Regions from separate parts of the Homo sapiens genome. Here region 2 is linked to region 1. Evidence: fine-mapped expression QTL. A gene starts in region 1. The other region holds a variant in brackets. All regions are shown on one strand. Distances are between the middles of the regions. Region 1 holds the start of BLOC1S2 (biogenesis of lysosomal organelles complex 1 subunit 2). Region 2 has its middle 29 kb from the start of CPN1.

Region 1 (8,000 bases):
AAGTCAAAGGCAGGGTGACAGCAGCCTAGAAAGTGCCAAGAACACTGGTAGTGTCCCTCCTCTGCTAAAATGAGTTGGCCTCTAGTAAATACCTCATCCATCAAGCCTTCTAGGATCTTGTGTTTTCTTTGAGAGGTGACTCCTCCAGAGGTTGGTCCAGCACCACCACCCTGACCCTATTGTCTCCAGAGTCTGGGAGGGAAGGGGAATAGCAAGAACTAGGACCTGAGCCTTGGTCCTGAGATCCCAGTAGAGTAGGTGATAGAACAGGAGCTGATGGCTTCCCAGAGTTATCTCCTCCCCTCTAACCTCTGACTTCCTGAGCAGGTGGCCCTCAACACTGAGATTGAGAAACTAGGCCGATCTATTGTGAGCAGCCCACAAGGCAAATCGGGTCCAGAGGCTGCCAGAGCAGGAGGCTGGGTTTCAGGAGAAGAATTCTACATGTACGTGCAGCCAAGAAAGGCTGGTTCAGGGCTGGCAACACTTCTATTACGATACCCTGTCTTGTACTTTTCCCACAACTTTCCAATTCTCTGTCCTACCCCAGGGAGAACCTCCGCTCCCCTTTAATTCTGCCTACAAGGCTGGGTCTTCCCTTCCTTGTTCCATTCAGGACACATGCCCTTCTGTGAACCCTGGCTCTTTAGACATCCAGCCCCCAGACACAGATTTCTGCTCCATTCGTCTCTCTCAAATCCCACACAGGCTCACAAGGAGAGTTCTGCAGCTGGAGACTGTCCTGGAAGGAGTAGTGTCCCAGATTGATGCTGTAGGCTCAAAGCTGAAAATGCTGGAGAGGAAGGGGTGGCTGGCTCCCTCCCCAGGCGTGGTGAGTGGCCCTTCACCTGGTCCTCCTAGTTCCTCACAGCTGAACTCTGCCATCTTTTCCACTCAGTGGGTGGGGCAAGAACATTTTTGAAAGACCTATGTTTTCAGGCTCCTGGGGAAACATGTTCATAGCGGTTAGTGTATCAGCAGAGATGGGTCATGGAGATAAGGCCTGGAAGTTGCTTGCCCTGGCCTAAGGGCTGCCTTGGCCACATGAGATGGTCTGTGTCAGTCTGTTTGGGCTGATATAATAAATTATCATAGACTGGGTGGCTTATAAGCAACACAAATTTGTTCCTCACAGTTTGGGAGGCTGGGAAGTCTAAGATCAAGGTGCCAGTAGATTCAGTATCTGTTGAGGGCCCACTTCCTGATTCATAGAGAGCTGTCTTCTTGCTGTGCCCTTTCATGGTGGAAGGGGTAAGGGAAGTCTCCTTTATTTTATTTTTTTATTTTATTTATTATTATTATTATTTGAGATGGAATTTTACTCTTGTTGGCCAGGCTGGAGTGCAATGGCACGATCTCGGCTCACTGCAACCTCCGCCTCCTGAGTTCAAGTGATTCTCCTGCCTCAGCCTCCCAAGTAGCTGGGATTACAGGCATGTGCCACCATACCCAGCTAATTTTGTATTTTTAGTACAGATGGGGTTTCTCCATATTGGTCAGGCTGGTCTCGAACTCCTGACCTCAGGTGATCCACCCACCTCGTCCTCCCAAAGTGCTGGAATTACAGGCGTGAGCCCACTCATAAGGGCTACATACTCACTATCTAATCCCCTGCCAAAGGCCCCACCTCCTAATACTATCACATTGGGGGTTACAATTTTAACGGATGAATTTGGGAGGGACGCAAACAGTCTATAGCAGTCTGAGTTCTCTGGAATCAGATAGAGAGAAAAGAAAAGTGGTACACAAACTATTTCTTCAAATGATTTGTCCCTTTCTTCTTCCAACAGAAGGAACAAGCTATTTGGAAGCACCCGCAGCCAGCCCCAGCTGTGACCCCAGACCCCTGGGGAGTCCAGGGTGGGCAGGAGAGTGGTGAGGAAGGGGGCCTAAAGCATCAGACAGCAGGCTTCCCTCCCTCTGCCTCCGCACAGGCCCCCTCGCCACATCCCCTGCACTTCTAGGACAACAGGTCCCATCATGGCTGCTGCTGAGCCCCACCCTGCATCTGGCCTTTTGAGCCAATGTTTCTGTGTGTGGTGGGCATCATGCTTAGGCTTGTGAATCAGTGTTTCTGTGTGTTGCCACATAGCTCTGTGAAATAACGTCTTCCACTGGGCCTTTTACTCCCTGTGTACTTAGCTCTGTGTGTTAATTAAAAAAAAAAAAGTTAACAAACAGGATAAAGAGAGGGAGGGTAATGGCTCTTCCTAAGCACCTGGATAGCCATGGTCTGTGAAAAAGGTAGAAACCAAGAGAGTAGGCGGTATCTAGATGTCTTCCTACTTCCCAGTGAATCCTATTCTTATCCTTTGTGCATCCCAAGATTTGTTGCTAGCACCCATGGGTTTCTCGTTTTCCCCCACAGAGGTTCCCTATAAAAGAGAAGAGGAAGCCTTAGAGGAGAGGAGACTCTCCCGTGGTGAGATTCCAACGTTGCAGAGGAGTTAAGTGTGAGGCACTCCCGGAGCAAAGTCTATGAAGGATCTTCTGCAAGAGGCTGCCTCCTGGTCCACTGAACCTGGAAACTGAGTGGGCTTTAACCAGGAGATAAAAATGGAGCCTGAAGGGAATCAGGCAAGGAAATGAACTCAGGATTCAGAGATCTTTGAATTAATATGTGGTGGGTTCTGACATTATTCTTCCATAAGACCATGTGGGTTTCCATGGTGGCTATCAATAAAACTCCTTAGGAAAACTTGGACTTTGCATTTGCTTCTGGTATTATAGAGGGAAGAAAGGCTGAAATTGTGGGTCATCCATGTGCCTGGGCTGGAATAGGTTCATGCTCTCTAGGAGGTATAGAGTAGGTGCAGTGATGTGAAGGAGCTGGGCTATAAGAACTTCTAGGCCTAGCACAGTGACTCACGCTTGTAATCCCAGCACTTTGGGAGGCTATGTTGGGTGGATCACTTGAGGCCAGAAGTTCCAGACAAGCCTGGGCAAAATGCTGAAATCCTGTCTTTAATAAAAATACAAACAAATTAGCCAGGTGTGGTGGCGCGTGCCTGTTATCCCAGCTACTTGGGAGGCTGAGGCATGAGAATCGTTTGAACTCGGGAGGTGGAGGTTGCAGTGAGCTGAGCCGAGATCACGTTACTGTACTCCAGCCTGGGTGACAGAGCGAGACTCTGTTTCAAAAAAAAGAACTTCTGGCTCGCAGGAATGGCTTGAAATAGTGGCTACTATGGTTGCACCATAGGAAAAGTGGGGACAGGTGACAAGTGAGACTCAGTCCTCAGGGTGGAGACAGTCAGGGTAGGAGGGCTGGGGATAAGGGGTAGCTGGCGTGTGTGTGTATGTACTGGCATCGGGGTGGGGTGAGAGGGTGCAGAGGGAGGATAACCAGGGATAAGAAAAGAAACTACCAAGATTTTGGGTGTCCAGGAGCCTGCCTGAGGCCTGCTGAATATCTCCTATCCCTTCTTCTGTGGCCTTTATCCCTCCTCATTTTGCACCTTCAATTGCTCCCCAGTCACTTCTTCTCATCCATCTCTTTCACTCACTCCTGTTCTCCCATCCCATTAAGTACTCTGTACACCTAGGAGGCTTGTGAAACAGCTTAAATGCAATTAAGATAACCAGAGTGTATCCTCAGCCCTAAAAAAGTTACAGTCTAAGCTTTCTTCAAGGAAGGCTGTATCAACTGAAGAGAAGTAGATGCCTGCCTGCAGTTTAAGAAATAGGGGCCAGTGAGTTGGTGTTAACTCAGGACATTGGGAGGGACAGTATTTAGGACCAGGGATCAATGCCTGAAGGTTTCCCAAAGTGTGGACGAGACAACCTGTAAAACTTTGGATTCCCTGAGCAATCTTTTGATGACTAACTCCAGTGCGGAGTGTCAGGAGAGCGGGCAATCCGTCTTCAGTGGTTTTGGTCAGCAGGCCACAAACAGGGTTGACTATTCCCAGACGGGTCGTGAGTGGTACAAGATGAGTGATCCCTCCAGGGTGTGACTGTAGGGATGAGCTCGCCCTCAGTCCCAGACGTCGCGACTGTTGGCAGTGGATCAATTCACAACAGCCTGGCGTAGCTTCAATTTCGGCTCCGGAATCGCCCTTTGCTGTGTCATAGACCTGAGGCTGGACTGGACCGCTAGGCGCAGGACTGCAGGGCCGGCCGGGTGGGCGGGGCACACCCAGTGCGCATGCGCAGCACCCCGGCCCGGAAACAGCGCGGGGTCCGCTATGGCGGCGGCAGCCGAGGGCGTACTGGCGACCCGGAGTGATGAGCCCGCCCGAGGTACCCGGAATGGATGGGGAGGAAGCGTCCGGTGGGGGGCCTGGGGCTCCGTCTCGGGTGGGCGAGGTTGAGTGTGTGGTGGCTCACCTGGCAGGAACGGGCTGGTGAGAGGAGTGCACTTGTCGCTGCGCGCGAGTGTTTGTCCTGTCAGGGTGACTGGGATGGTGCCAGGATGAGCGGGGGTGCCGGGTATGGGCGAGGGGCGGTGCGAGGGAGGCGAGTTGATGTGTCAGATGGGCAGGGACGCAGTGAAGGACTTGAAATTATGGCAGATGGAGAATGGAGCCGACTTGATGGAATGAAGGCAAGTGGAGGGATGTCGGAACAGGCTGCTTTGGCTGGATTAGCACCGGGTGTAGGCGGGACACTTAGTCATTCTCCCTTGGCCCAGACGATGCCGCCGTGGAGACAGCTGAGGAAGCAAAGGAGCCTGCTGAAGCTGACATCACTGAGCTCTGCCGGGACATGTTCTCCAAAATGGCCACTTACCTGACTGGGGAACTGACGGGTGAGGCGGGGTCTGGGTTGATTCGGGTGCGGTTTGGCCCAGGAGGCCTGGGAGATGGTTAGCAGCATCAGTCTGCAGCTCCCTTCCTACCCTGCATGCCCTGAGACAGGCCTGTTGGAAGTTGGGGGAGGCCATGAATGGGAGAGAAAGAAAATACAACTCTGCAGGCCTCTGTAACATAGACTAATGAGAAAACAATAACAAAAAAGAGTTCATATCCAGCAACAGTAATCAAGAAGTGCTTCCTTGGGGAAAGTGTATTTTGAGCAGGGTTGTGAAGGGAATTATTGGTGGAAAAGGGGGAGATGATACAACTAGCGAATGAGGTGGTATGTGCAAGCAGTGTGTTTGGCTAAAGCAGAAGATGTGTTTACCGGGATAAAGAGAAATGAAATTGAGGAACGGGGAGTGACCTGCAGATTTAGGGACCTATTAGTTTGGTCTGAGGATTTGATAACCCATCCTTTGGGACATGACTAGTGTTTGATCGTTTCCAAGTGGACACATGACCTATGTGTGGAGGAGGATCAGAAAGTGAAGTATGGGCAGGGCGCGGTGGCTCATGCCTTTAATCCCAGAGGCCGAGGCTGGTGGATCACTTGAGGTCAGGAGTTTGAGACCAGCCTGGGCAAAATGGCGAAATCCTGTCTCCACTAAAAATACAAAAATTAGCCGGCCGTGGTGGCGGGCGCCTGTAATCCCAGCTACTGGGGAGACTGGGGCAGGAGAATCGCTTGAACCCAGGAGGTGGAGGTTGCAGGTTGCAGTGGACTGAGATCACACCACTTGCACTCCAGCCTGGGCGACAGAGTGTGACTCCATCTCAAAAAAAATGAGAAAGAAAAAAGAAAAAGAAAGAAAGTGAAGTCTGGTCCAGTACAGCATCTCAAAAACATTTATTAAATTGTTTCACTTCCCCAGGAAATTACTGTAAGCTAAATTTGTGAATCAGAATCTATGAGAAAAGGCTTGATACAGAATAGTAGGGGTTGTGAATCTGTAATTTTTTTTTTTCTTTTTCTGTTTTTAAGAGACAGGGTCTCACTATGTTGCCTGGGCTGGTCTTGAACTCCTGAGCTCAAGTGATCCTCTTTCCATCTATTTTGGTTGATGGCACCACCCAGGCTTAAAACCCCAGATACATCTTAGTCTGCTTCCATCCCTCAATATCTACTTGAACAAGTCCTATAAATTCCACTTCTGTAATGTTCTTGCACCCATGCTCTCCTTTCCATTCCTTTTACCACCACTCTGCCTGAGATCTTCATTACTTTTCTTTTATTATTATTATTATTTAAAAAAATATGGCCAGGCACGGTGGCTCATGCCTGTAATCCCAGCACTTCGGGAGGCCTAGGCAGGTGGATCACCTGAGGTCAGGAGTTCCAGACCAGCCTGCTCAACATGGCAAAACCCTGCTTCTACTAAAAATACAAAAATTAGCCAGGTGTGGTGGCACACGCCTATAATCCCAGCTACTCAGGAGGCTGACACGGGAGAATCGCTTGACCTGAGAGGTGGAGGTTATAGTGAGCTGTGATCGTGCCATTGCACTCCAGCCTGGGTGATGGAGGGAGACTCTGTCCTAAATAAATAAATAATAGAGATGAGGTCTGCTCCGTTGCCCAAGCTGGCCTCAAGTGATCCTAACACCTCAGCTTCCCAAAATGCTGGGATTACAGGTGTGAGCCACTGCACCCAGCTGTGACTCTGTAAGTTATCAGCCTGATTATTTGTTTGTTTATTTTTGAGCAAGAGAAACCAAGTAACAAAATGTAGGTGTTTGGCTTCTCTTTAACAATTCCAAAGATTTGGCGCTACTAGCCCCTGCATTCTTTCAAGGCTATAATTGACTAGAGCTGAGCAGCTGCCTCTTAAAAGGACTAGTGCTATCTAATTTGTCCTTACCACTTTCTGTTTTCTCCCTTTACTGGGAACTAGTGTCAAGTGCCATTGATCACTGTTCTCTACTGTTATTTTTATTAGTAGCAGTACAGAAATGGTTTTCTATACCAATGGCTCTATCAAAACTGGTAAAGTAAATGATGGGCTAAGAGGATTGCATATTGCAAGAAGTAAGGGGAAGCACATTTCTTCATGGAAGTGAATAATTTTCTTATGCATTTAATGTGCAAGCACTTGGCTTACTTTACTCATTTACGTTATCTTGCTGGCTTCTAGGTGTTTGAATATGTCACCCTTGTTTTATTTTATTTTATTTAGACGGAGTTTTCGCTTTTGTTGCCCAGGCTGGAATGCAGTGGTGCAATCTCGGCTCACTGCAACCTCCGTCTCCCAGGTTCAAGCAATTTTCCTGCCCCAGCCTCCAAAGTAGCTGGGATTACAAGCACACGCCACCACGCCTGGCTAATTTTTATTTTTATTTTTAGTAGAGATGAGGTTTTGCCATGTCAGCCAGGCTGGACTTGAACTCCTGACCTCAAGTGATCTGCCCACCTTGGCCTCCCAAAGTGCTGGGATTACAGGCATGAGGCGCAATGCCTAGCTGTGACCTTTGTTTTAGAGAGACTAATTTGATAGCAGTATAAATATGAGAGTGTAGATATGGGGGAGAGAGAACAGAGAGAGATGAGCAATAATTCAGATGAAAAGTAATAGAGGACCAGGCACCGTGGCTCATGCCTGTAATCCTAGCACTTTGGGAGGCAGGAGAATTGCTTGAGGCCAGTAGTTTAAGACCAGCCTGGGCAACATAGCACGACTCCATCCTTGTAGTCTTGTCTTTTCCCCTACCATCCAGAGGTTACATGCTCCAAGTAATCTAATAATAATAAAAGAAAAGAAAAGTAATGAAGATCTGAGGCAGAGTGGTGGTAAAAGGAATGGAAAGGAGAACATGGGTGCAACAGCATTACAGAAGTGGACTTTATAGGACTTGTTTAAGTAGATATTGAGGGATGGAAGCAGACCAAGATGTATCTGAGGTTTTAAGCCTGGGTGGTGCCATCAGCCAAAATAGCTGGAAAGAGGAACCATGTTTAGTGTGAAAATGTTTTCAGTTTTGGGTTGGCTGCTTGTTGATGTAACTAGGGAACTCAGGTGACTTGTACATTGGATTCCAGAGCTCAGAGATTGATCAGAGCACAAGAAACAGATTTCGGAGTCACTTTCGTAGTGGTGTGATTGGACGCTGTGCAGGATGAGATTGCCAAGGAAGAGCTTAGAAGTAGGTAAGAGAGCCTAGGCTAAAATGTCAGGGAATGCCTGTATGGTGCACTTAATTTGTTTT
Region 2 (12,581 bases), 180 kb after region 1:
CAGTTCCAAAGCATAGAGGAGGAAGAAAAGATGCCAAACCTGACCAAAATACTGCAAACAGAAACAGCCGCCAGTCTCACTTACAAATATCAATGCAAAAGTCTATTGATGCATAGGTCTGGCATCATATTAAAAATGCTATACCACTGGCTGGGCACGGTGGCTCACGCCTGTAATCCCAGCACTTTGGGAAGCCGAGGCAGGTGGATCACCTAAGGTCAGGTATTCGAGACCGGCCTGGCCAACATGGTGAAACCCCTCCTCTACTAAAAATACAAAAATTAGCAGGACATGGTGGCACATGCCTATAATCTCAGCTAGTTGGAAGGCTGAGGCAGGAGAATCGCTTGAACCCGGGAGGCGGCAGTTGCTGTGAGCCAAGATCCTGGGCGACAGAGCAAGACTCCGTTTCAAAAAAAAAAGAAAAAACTACACCACTAACACAGGAATCAGGAACATAGCAGTGGTGCAATACCAGGAAATCCATCTTAAGAAAACTGACCATATAAATACAATTTTGTATAAATACAATTTATACAAAATTACATAAATACAGATTATGCAAAATTGTACAAATACAATTTTGACATTACATGATAATCTCATTTGTACAGAAAATGCTTTTAAGAATATTTGACATCCATTCTTGATTTTTCTAACCCTTAGTAAAATAGAAATAGATGAATTTCTCTTAAGTCAATGAAAACACATCTCCCAAATTGTGCTTTTTGGTGAAAGACTGGAAACATTCTCATTAATATTGAGAATAAGATGAGGCTGGCTTACACCTGTAATCCCAGCACTTCGGGAGGCGGTGGCAGGCGGATCACCTAAGGTCAGGAGTTTTAGACAGCCTGGCCAACATGGCGAAACCCTGTCTCCACTAAAAATCCCAAAAAAAAAAAAAAAAAAAAAAAATTTAGCCGGGCTTGGTGGCCCGCGCCTATAGTCCCAGCTACTCAGGAGACTGAGGTAGGAGGATCGCTTGAGCCCAGGAGGTGAAGGTTGCAGTGAGCCAAGATGGCACCACTTGCACTCCAGCCTGGGCGACAGAGTGAAACCCCGTGTCGTAAAAAAATAAAATAAAATAAATAAATAAATAAATAAATAAATAAATAAATAAATAACAAGGCTATTTACCATTACAGTATAGTTCAACTGGAATCAGAAAAAAGTAACAAGAAATAAAACATTTAAAAGATGGAAGCAAAAACTTTAGTTGCTATCATCGTGCCTGAAAAACCCAAGAAAATTGACTCCTATAGTCAGTAGGAACAAATCCCCAAATCAACAGATATCGTGCAAGGGCGGGTGACCTCATCGCCCCGACGGCAGCCGGGCCGGGGCTGGGGGTTGGCGGGGGGTGCGGGGCGGCCCCGGTGCAGGCAAAAGTTCAGGGGCCGAGGCGCGGCCGTGCAGCTGTCGTCCGAACCCGGCCGGGTCCGGGGCGCCCGCCGCAGGCGGTGAAACGCAAGATTCAGGCCCTGCCGCAGCAGGCGGACAAGGCGAAGACTGCGCGCAGGGCCTGCAGCGGCAGCTGGACTGGGGGCGCGAGCGGGGGGCGCGAGCGAGCGGCGCGAGAAAGCTGAAGGCGATGTGGCTGTCCTCGACTGACGCATCCAGCTCTTTTTTTTTTTTTTTTTCTTTTTTTATTATTATTATTATACTTTAAGTTTTAGGGTACATGTGCATCCAGCTCTTTAAGGAGGAGTTGGACGGGGCTCGGGAACGACTGGTCACGGCCCTGCAGAAGCTAGAGGAGGGGGGAAAAGGCTGCAGATGAGCGTGAGAGAGAATGAAGGTGATAGAAAACCGGGCTATGAGGGATGAGGAGAAGATGGATTCGGGAGATGCAGCTCAAAGAGGCCAAGCACACTGCGGCCGGAGGCTGACCGCAAATAAGAGGAGGTAGCTCGGAAACTGGCCATCACAGAGGGCGAACTGGCCAGAGCAGAGGAGCGTGCAGAGGTGTCTGAACTAAAATGTGGTGACCTGGCAGAAGAACTCAAGAATGTCACTAACAATCTGAAACCGCCGGAGGCTGCATTGGAAAGTATTCTGACAAGGAGGACAAATACGAAGAAAAAATTAAACTTCTGTCTGACAACTGAAGGAGGCTGAGATCCGTGCTGAATTTGTAGAGATAATGGTTGCAAAACTGGAAAAGACAACTGATGACCTGGAAGAGAAATTTGCCCAGGCCAAAGAAGAGAGCGCGGGCTTATATCAGACACTGGATCAGGCACTAAATGAACTTGACTGTATATAACCAAAACGGAAGAGCCTTGTTCCAGCAGAAACTCCGGAGCTCCGAGTGTCTTTCTCTTCTCTTGTAAGAAGTTTCTTTTGTTATTGCCATCTTTGTTTTGCTGGAAATGTCAAGCAAATTATGAATACATGACCACATATTTTGTATCAGAAGCTTTGAGCACCAGTTAAATCTCATTTCTTCCTTTTTTTAAAAATGGCACCAGCTTTTTCAGCTCTATTTTTTCCTTTGCGTTGCATTTATTCCTAAGGTAGGCAGGGTATTTCCTAGTAAACGCAGTCTCTTAGGACAGAGGGCGGACAGTCACAGTGGCTCACACCTGTATACCCAGCACTTTAGGGGACTGAAGTGGGTGGATCACTTGAGGTCAGGAGTTCGAGACCAGCCTGGCCAACATGGTGAAACCTCGTCTTTACTAAAAATACAATAATTAGCCGAGCGTGGTGGCACACGCCTGTAATCCCAGCTACTCGGGAGGCTGAAGCAGGAGAATTGCTTGAACCCGGGAGGCGGAGGTTGCAGTGAGCGGAGATTGCACCATTGCACTGCAGCCTGGGCGACAAGAGAACAGGCAACCCCACACTTTGGAGAACACAGACTCCAATATCTAGTAATGGATCTATTTAAAACGCTGAAGAACATAACCATTTGGGTCAACCATTGGTCAGACGACAGGAGAGACCAGGGACCATCACATGGGTGGGGATTTTCCATCCAGAGGCAAAAAAAACAAAAACAAAACAAAACAAAAATGGTGGGTGGGGGTTTGCTGTTGTGGGAAGTCATAAACCACAGATAGATTAACCTAAGCATCCTGGCTCTTCTCCACACTCCACCATGCAGAACAAACATCCTCTCAAGCAGTCAGCATGAGAATGCTTCATAATTACCCACATATTTTCTGGATAGATGCTTGATGTGATGTTCTTCTGCATATTTCTTTCATTCTAAAGTTGTTCTCTGGCCAGGCACAGTGGCTCACGCCTGTAATCCCAACACTTTGGGAGGCCAAGGCAGGTGGATCACCTGAAGTCAGGAATTTGAGACCAGCCTGGCAAAACGGCAAAACCCCGCCTCCACTAAAAATACAAATGCTGGGCATGGTGACACATGCCTGTAGTCCCAGCTACTAGGGAGGCTAAGGTGGGAGAATTGCTTGAATCTGGGAGGTGGAGGTTGCAGTGAGCTGAGATGGCACCACTGTACTCCAGCCTGGGTGACAGAGTGAGACACTCCATCACAAGAAAAAACAAAATCAAAAGTTGTTCTCTGAGGAGCAAGTGTCTCATTCCAATAATGACCCATCCACTCAGCAGGAATATGGTGGAGTTCAGTCCAATTCAAGTCAGCCATATTCAAAAGACTACAAGGCATTAATAAATTGAGCAAAAGAGCTTTGTTCTATTAGCAGAAAGGGCCTCTCTGGCAGCAGAGATTAAAAACTGGCCCAACTTCATTTCCATACTTCAGGAATAGCAAATTGAAGTTTCACTTATGTAGAACTTGAATTCCTTCTTTAGGACCAAGTTGATAAAAGACCAAGAAACTCCTGATTAAACTGGATAATGGAGGATTTTGAAGACGGGGCTGCACATTTTGGCTTCTTTTTACTTTGTTTTCTCAGTTAACATCTCAGAGCTGAAACATTTCACATTCCCCAGCAGCGTGTGGGGGCCAACTCAAGTTTTCAATTCTGACTAAAAATCACCCTGCTTCTGGCTTATCTGAATCCCCTATCCACCCCACCCCACCACCCTACTCCTATTTATTCAGCATCACACTATCCAGGAAATACACTAGCAAATTGTGCTATTGAATAAAATCCATACTTTTCTTAAGATTCTTACAACTGTATCATATGTAATAGTATCACTTTTTCTACATTTTGGTCAAATAAATTTTTACATAAACTAAAAAAAAAAGTGCAAGGGAAACAAAGTTAAAATTTGAGTAAAAGTAATTCAAGGTGATTTTCAAACATAAAAATATACTAACAAAATAAAATATGTTAAAATAAAAGTTGTAAAAGAACATGTTTTTATTTGTCATAATTTGTTGGTAGGATGTTAAAAAAAAAACCCATATTCTTGCCAATATTGTAAATTGATATAACCTCTAGGGAAGGCAATGTGGCAATATTTATCAAAATTCAAAACACATACAACGTGAAGAGTAGTTTCACTACTAGTGTTACTGACCATGGATTCTTGGGCTCTCAATGCAATAGAAATTGACATGAAGTTGAAAGAGCTTTCCCAAACAAGGCCTCATTGGAACTTATGCCCAGACATAAGGAAAGCAGCATGAGTGAGAGAATTCCCTGACTGACTTCCAGAAAAGAGCCGTAGGGCTTTTTTATTAGGCAAAGCGCAGGAATTGACATCAGTGATAGGGTATGGAGGCTGGGCTGGGCAAGGCATGTGAGGGGCAGGAGACACAGGTCAGCGTGATCTGGTTGCTATGTTTATCTTGAGTAAGGGCCACCTGGTGGTCTGGTCGGAGGCAACAAGGCTGTAAATCAGTCGTTCAGCATTCCTTTCTGAGGACAACCTTGGTTATTTCCTAAGGCCACTTCCTGGAATTCTTTAAGGAAAAACACAGGGGATTGGCCGGGCGTGGTGGCTCACGCCTGTAATCCCAGCACTTTGGGAGGCAGGCGGATCACCTGAGGCCAGGAGTTAGAGACCAGCCTGACCAACATGGAGAAACCGCGTCTCTACTAAAAATAAAACATTAGCTGGGTGTGATGGCACACGCCTGTAGTCCCAGCTGCTGGGGAAGCTGAGGCAGGAGAATCGCTTGAACCTGGGAGGCAGAGGTTGTGGTGAGCCAAGATCGCACCATTGCACTCCAGCCTGGGCAACAAGAGCGAAACTCTGTCTCAAAAAACAAAACAAAACCCAGAAAACGTGATGGCATCAGTGAGGTAGTGGAGTAGGTTTTGTGATCAGTGGGGATGCATGAAAGAATGCTCTAGTGTGGCGGGCTGAAGCCAAAAGAAGCCAAGCCCTGTTCCTACTCTCTCACTAGTTTAGCAGTTTATCCTTCATGTATGTTTTCCCCAAAGAATATTTATTACAGCAATATTTTTGACATTTGCTTTTTTTTTTCTTTTTTTTTTTTTGAGACGGAGTTTCGCTCTTTCACCCAGGCTGGAGTGCAATGGTGCGATCTCAGCTCACTGCAACCTCCGCCTCCTGGGTTCAAGCAATTCTCGTGCCTCAGCCTCCTGGGTAGCTGGGATTATAGGCGTGTGCCACCACGCCCAGCTAATTTTTGTATTTTTAGTAGAGATGGGATTTCACCATTGTTGGCCAGGCTGGTCTTGAACTCCTGACCTCAGGTGATCTACCCACCTCAGCCTCCCAAAGTACTGAGATTACAGACATAAGCCACCACGTCCGGCCTAACATTTTTGATGTTTGAAGACTGGACTATCCTTGAATGTCTATTTAAAAAGGACTGCAAACATTCTGATATTTCTATAACATGAAATACTAAGCAAGCTACAGAACACTATAGGATGCTACCATTTATGTGAAAACAATGGCGGCTGTATATGTGTGTGTGTGTGTGTGTGTGTGTTTAATCCATAAGATATCTCCCATGGGATATAAACTGGTAACTGTGACTACATCAAGAAGGAAACCAGGTGTCAAGTATACTGTATAGGAAAGGGATGTCAAGTATACTGTATAGGAAAGGGAGAAAGACTTATTTTCTTGTTTTTGGGTTTTTTTTTTTTTGAGACTGAATTTCTCTCTTGTTGCCCAGGCTGGATTGCAGTGGCAGGATCTTGTTGCCCGGGCTGGAGTGCAGTGGCAGGATCTCGGCTCACTGCAACTTCCGCTTCCCAGGTTCAAGCAATTCTCTGCCTCAGCCTCCTGAGTAGCTGGGATTACAGGTGCCTGCCACCACGACCAGCTAATTCTTGTATTTTTAGTAGAGATGGGGTTTCACCATATTGGCCAGGCTGGTCTCGAACTCCTGACCTCAGGTGATTCACTGGCCTTGGCCTTCCAAAATGCTGGGATTACAGGCGTGAGCCACAGCACCCAGCTAGAAGACTTATTTTCACTTTTTACCCTTGTGTACATATTTTGGTATTGTATACGATGTGCAGATATTACCAACTCTAATAATTGTACAGATAATGTTTAAGGAAATACAAAATGAAGTTGAAATGGAAAAAGGAACTTTTCACTTAAACAGGAGTGCTTTATAATCAGATAGAACTTGGTTTGAATTCTAACTATGCCATGTGACAAAAGCATAATTTCAAGCAAGGTATTTTCTCCTTTCTGAGCCTTGGTTTTTCTCATTTATATAATGTGAAGAACAACAAAAGCAGCTACTGGATATAGTTTATGTGAGAATGAAATGAGATTTATAAACAACTAGGCAGTGTGATATGGTTTGGCTTCATGTCGCCACCCAAATCTCACCTTGAATTGTAATCCCCATAATCCCCACTTGTCAAGGGTGAGACCAGGTGGAGGTAATTGGATCATGGGGGTGGTTTCTCCCATGCTGTTCT[C/T]GTGATAGTGAGTGAGTCTCACGAGAGCTGATGGTTTTATAAGCACCTGGCATTTCCTGCTTGCACTTGCTCCCCTGCTGCCCTGTGGAGGAGGTGTTTGCTTCTCTTTTGCCTTCTGCTATGATTGTAAGTTTTCTGAGGCCTCCCCAGCAATACAGAACTGTGAGTCAATTTAACCTCTTTCCTTTATAAATTACCCAGTCTTGGGTATTTCTTCATAGCACTGTGAGAACAGACTAATACAGAGTGTCAGGCAAATGTAAAGCATCCAATATTATTTGGTCATTTAAGCCTCACAAAGATTGTATGAGGCAAGGAGGAAAGCTGGCTGCTGTTGTCATAATTATCATGGTTGTTACCCTACCCCAATTTACAAGCGAGGAAAGTAGAGTTTGATTCAATAGCATCAAGGTTCCAGATCTCATTTTCTTTCATTCACACCTGAATCCAGAAAGAAAAAAAACAGTAAAAAAAAAGTCAGTTCTTATGATTTAAGGCAGCAATTCCAGTAAAGCTGCTTTCTAGACAGTATGGTTGCAAACTCCAGTTTTTCACATTGACCATAATAATACTTTTCCTGCAGAGAACCATCTGATTACTAGATAAAAGCTATTGTATGACAGTGTGTGTAAAATAGCCATAAATTGAGACCATCACTCACAGGCAAGCTTAAGAATGCTCAGTCCTGTTAAATCCACTATAATTAAGAGTGTTGGCTGGGCGCAATGGCTCGTGCCTGCCAACACTTAGGGAGGCTGAGGTGGGCAGATCGCTTGAGCTCAGGAGTTCAAGACCAGCCTGGGCAACATGATGAAACCCTGTCTCTACAAAACATACAAAGATTAGCTGGGTGTGGTGGCACTTGCCTGTACTTGGGGGGCTAAGGTGGGAGGATCACTTGAGCCTGGGAGGTCGAGGCCACAGTGAGCCAGACTGCACTCCAGCCTGGGAGACAGAGTGAGATCTTGTCTCAAAAAAAAAAAAAAGTGTTAAGCCAGGTGTGGTGGCTCGCACCTGTAATTCCAACACTTTGAGAGGCCAAGGTGGGAGGATAGCTTAAGCCCAGGAGTTCAAGACTAGTTCTGGCAACATAGCAAGACCCTGTCTCTACAGAAAATAAAATAATTGGCCAGGCATGGTGGCACACACCTGTATTCCTAGCTACTCAGGAGGCTGAGATATGAGGATCACTTGAGCCTGGAAGATTGAGGCTGCAATGAGCTGTGATCACGCCACTGCACTCCAGTCTGGGTGACAGAGCATAACCTGTCTTTTTTTTTTTTTAAAAGTATTTTTGACTTGTTTATGAACCAAAAATAAACAATAAGCATAATAAAGTGCTCCTGTGCTCTCCATTTCTTGGCTCCAAGACTACTGTGTTGCCATTATTGTCTCTGGTCTTGTTCAGTTACAAGCAGTTTCCCAAAATGTCTTGGGTCAAACTTAGGACACTTTCTGGATAAAAATGGCTGCTTCAACAAAACAGATTACTTTTTGCCGTTTTCCCTTGGTAAATACAAATAAACCCATGCAGACCAACACCTGCACATTTTGGACAATTTTTTAGCTTCACTTAGTTTTTGGCGTAATTAAGTAATCCACTGAGAATAGCAAAGGCAATCAAACTATGATAAACTCCCAAATCTAGATGGAGCCATTTAAGTCTGTACACTAATAGAATCAGGCAGTCATCCAAAGACTGATTTGTCATTTTGTAATTGAATATAATGAGTTTTTAAAGAAACCAAAGCAAGTCAATCCAATTTAGATGTCACACATTACCAAATGACAAAGGGACCTGCTTTTGCAAACTTTCTTTTTTGATCTCCCCTTTGTAATACTGACTTCTCCAAAACAAAATGTACAGGTTTCTTTCTTTGTTTTAAATGTTAACTGTTGTTAATTTTCTGTTTCTTGGAGCCAGAGGCCATCAAAGACCCTTGGCCACTGCATCTTCCTTCTTCCCCTCTGAAATTCAGAGCCTCACACGTCCCCGCCTTTATACAAGAGCTGCTTGGCTCCAGTCACGATTTCCCAGAAGGTGGCAAAGATGATTTAAGATTGGCCAACACACATTTTTTTTCTCCCCTGTTATCTTATGCATTCATTTGATTAATATTTTCAAAAATAACATTTAATATGTTTTGTTTCTTTGAGACAGGGTCTTGCTCTGTTGCCCAGGCTGGAGTGCAGTGGTGCAATCACAGCTCACTGTAACCTTAAACTCCTGGGCTCAAGGGATCCTCCCACCTTAGCCTCCTGAGTAGCTAGGACTACCGATGTGGGCCACCATGCCCAGCTAATTTTTTTTTTTTTTTTTTTTTTTGTAGACATGGGCTCTTGCTATGTTGCCCAGGCTAGTCTCGAGCTCCTGGCCTCAAGCAATCTTCTCACCTAGGCCTCCCAAAGCACTAGGATTACAGATGTCAGCCACTGCACCCAGCCAATATGTTTTGTTTCTAATTACAATGATAATAAATATTCAATATAAAAAATGGAACATGCAGAAAAGCAACAGGAGAAAGAAGTTACCTGCAATTTTGCCTTACAGATAATCACTTAATATTTTACTGTATATACATCAAAAGATTTCTATGTATGTTACAGTAAGTAGGTAGACACGAGCAGGGCAAGAGAGCCGCCCTCCCACACCTGGAATGTCAGGCGACCATCAGGTGATGGTTAGGCAGTTGTTAACTCTCTCTCCAAAATAATAATTGGTGGCAGCCAGCGCCAGGGAAAGGTAGTCTCCCAAGAGAAAACACCTGAAGCTGGTGAAGAGCTCAGGAATTGGGTGAGTGGGCTCAAGCATGCGCACTAAGAAGCAAAATGGCTGAGTTTAACTGGCACATGACCACCTTCTGGGAACACTCGACTGGTGAGAGATCAGAACCTCAAGTGAGTATGCGCACAACTTCAGCAAACACACTGCACATGTGGCCCCTCGCAAGCGCTAGCAGGCGACTGTGCACATGCGGACAGCCCACCCCAGGGGAAGAATATGGGGAGAAAGGAGGCAATTCCCAGAAGCATGCCAATGTATAAAACCCCAAGCCGAAAGTCAAGCCACACACTTGAATCTCTCAAGTCGCCCGCTTGGCCCTCTTTGTCCCTGCTCTAAAAACTTTTTAATAAACTTTCACTCCTGCTCTAAACTTGCCTCGGTCTCCTTACGTTCCTCCTCTGTTGAATTCTTTCTTCTGAAGAGGTAAGGATTGAGGGTGCTGCATACCTGTATGAATTTGTCACTGCTAACAGGTATATATAATCTATATTTTTACTTTTACTTATCTAATTATTTTTTAGAGACAGGGTCTCACTCTGTCACCCAGAGTGCCATGGTATGATCGTGGCTCACTGAAGTTCTGAATTCCTGGGCTCAAGTGATCCCCACACCTTAGCCTCCCGAGTAGCTGGAACTACAGGTGTGTGCCACCACACCTGGCAAAATCTTTTTTTTTTTTTTTTTTTTTTTTTTTTTTTTGTAGAGACAGGGTCTTGCTATGTTGCCTGCGCTGGTTTTGAACTCCTGAGCTCAAGCGAACTTCCCACGTTGGCCTCCCAATGTAATAGGAATACAAGTGTGAGCCACCATGCCCGGCTCTTGTAGTGTATATTTTAAAAATAAAATTTGGTACATTCTGTACAATCTATTTGATATTCTGCTTTCACTTAGTATATTGTGATAAAAAACAGTCTATGCTATTAATCCATATAGACATTTTTAGGTTGTGTGTTAGAGGCACAATGATTTACAGTCTATTATAGATAGATGTATAGGTTTCATCTAATTCATCAATATTGTAAATAATTATGCAAATGATAGCCTCATAGGTAAATCTCTATTTCTTACAGATAAATTGTCAAAAGGAGAATCACTGAATTGAAGAGTGAAAATTTCTTTAGAGTGTTTTGATGTGTATTGAAAAATACTCCTCTAGAAAAACTATACTGATTTATGTCCTCCAGCAGTTTATGAGAGTCCCTTTCTGATTAGTGTTTCCAATGGCTTTTAGGGGCATATTGTATTTTAACATGAAGAGAACTAATGGAAGTGTTCCTTCCTTCCAGGAAAGCGAGCCTGTGTTGGAGAGAGCCTGGCCCACATAGAGCTGTTCCTATTTTTATTTTTTTAAAATAAATTATTTGCTCTTTGTTGTTGAGACAGGGTCTCCCTCTGTCACTCAGGCTGGAGCGCAGTGGCACAGTCATGGCCCACTGCAGCCTCCACCTCCCTGACTCAATTGATCCTCCCACTTCAGCCTCCCAAGTAGCTGGAACTATAGACATGTGCCACCATGCCCCAGCTAATTTTCTTAATTTTTTTTTTTTTTTGTAGAGATGCGGTTTCACTATGTTTCCAAAGCTGATATTGAACTTTTGGGTTCAATCCCACCTCAGCTTCCCAAAGTGCTAGGATTACAGGCATGAGCCATCCCACCCGTCTCCTTTAAATCTTGAATTATTGAATAGCAGTAAGAGCCTAAGCCTTAGGTCAATGTGGAAGCAACATGTAACCTCCAACTCTCCTCCAGGCCCTGGTCTACACAGAGCTGTCTGGAGATCTGCCCTTGCTCCTGAACCCTTGATTTTCTTAGAATTCCAATCCCCTAAATCCAGTCATTTGACTCACTAGGAAACTGAGGCCAGCATGCCAGTAGGGAGTGCCTCCACCCCTGGAGAAGATGATTCTTTAGAAAATTTCCAAAATGTACCTAGTACCAATAAATGACCTGCCTGGTTCCCTGATCTTTCCTTTGCCACGTAGAGGCTTCTGGATAATTTTGGTCCTCAGTTCACTATTGGGAATCTTCTGTAGCATCCACTCCAAATTAAGAAGATTCACACAATGAACCTAAAATTCATATGAAAATGCAAGGGACTAAGAGTAGTAAAAACAATCTTGAAAGAAGAACAAAATATAAAACTACAGTCATTAAAACTGTGTGTTCCCTGCTAGTCTAGTGACCAGGGAAAAAAACCCAAACAACTGTGTGATATTGGCATAAGGACAGACATATAGACTGAGTGTCCACAAAGGAACCCCCACATTTATGATGAAGCGATTTTCAACAAGGGTATCAAGACAACTTTATGGAGAACAGTCCTTTCCACAAAGGTGCTGCGATAATGGTGTATCCACATGGCAGAAGGATAAAGTTAGACCTCTTCCTTAAACCAAGTACAAAAATTAACTCCAAATGAATCATAGACTTAAATGTAAGCATTAAAACTATAACTCTCAGAAGATGTATTAGTCTATTCTCATGCTGTGAATAAAGACATACCTGAGACTGGGTAATTTATAAAGGAAAGAGGTTTAAGTGACTCACAGTACCACATGTGAGTCAATTAAAGGCCTGGGGAGGCCTCACAATCATGGTAGAAGGAAAAGGAGAAGCAAAAGCATGTCTTACATGGCAGCAGACAAGAGAACGTGTGCAGGCAAACTCCCCTTTAGAAAACCGTCAGATGCCACGAGACTTATCCATTATCACGAGAACAGCACAGGAAAAACTCGCCCTCATGATTCAATTACCTCCCACTGGATCCCTCCCACAACATGTAGGAATTATGGGAGCTACAATTCAAGATGAGATTTGAGTGGGAACACAGCCAAACCATATCAGAAGAAAACATAGGAGTAAATCTTCATGACCTTGAGTTAGGCAATAGTTTCTTAAAATGACATCAAAAGTAGAAATGACAAAAGAAAAAAACATAAACTGGAGTTTATTAAAATTAAAAAACTAAGTGAAAAGACAACCCATAGGA

What was found. PIP is the estimated chance that this variant, and not a neighbour inherited with it, causes the effect. A credible set is the group of variants that fine-mapping cannot tell apart.
Region 2: its variant is the best candidate, but not a certain one, in a credible set for the expression of BLOC1S2 in sun-exposed skin (GTEx, PIP 0.63).

Annotation. Positions count from the first base shown.
Region 1 is chr10:100,282,847-100,290,846 of GRCh38, reverse strand. It overlaps BLOC1S2 (biogenesis of lysosomal organelles complex 1 subunit 2), which reads left to right and starts at 4,167. Exons shown (of 5, transcript NM_173809.5): 1 at 4,167-4,242; 2 at 4,634-4,750. The coding sequence starts at 4,188. It overlaps PKD2L1 (polycystin 2 like 1, transient receptor potential cation channel), which reads left to right. Exons shown (of 16, transcript NM_016112.3): 13 at 328-446; 14 at 709-832; 15 at 1,791-1,875; 16 at 2,369-2,698. The coding sequence ends at 2,451. RefSeq lists a silencer at 4,051-4,250 and enhancers at 4,541-4,840, 4,426-4,933.
Region 2 is chr10:100,104,100-100,116,680 of GRCh38, reverse strand. It overlaps the pseudogene CYP2C23P and the pseudogene TPM4P1. Among named protein-coding and RNA genes, the nearest start is that of CPN1, 29 kb to the right of the region's middle. The variant C/T (reference allele first, on the strand shown) is at 6,807.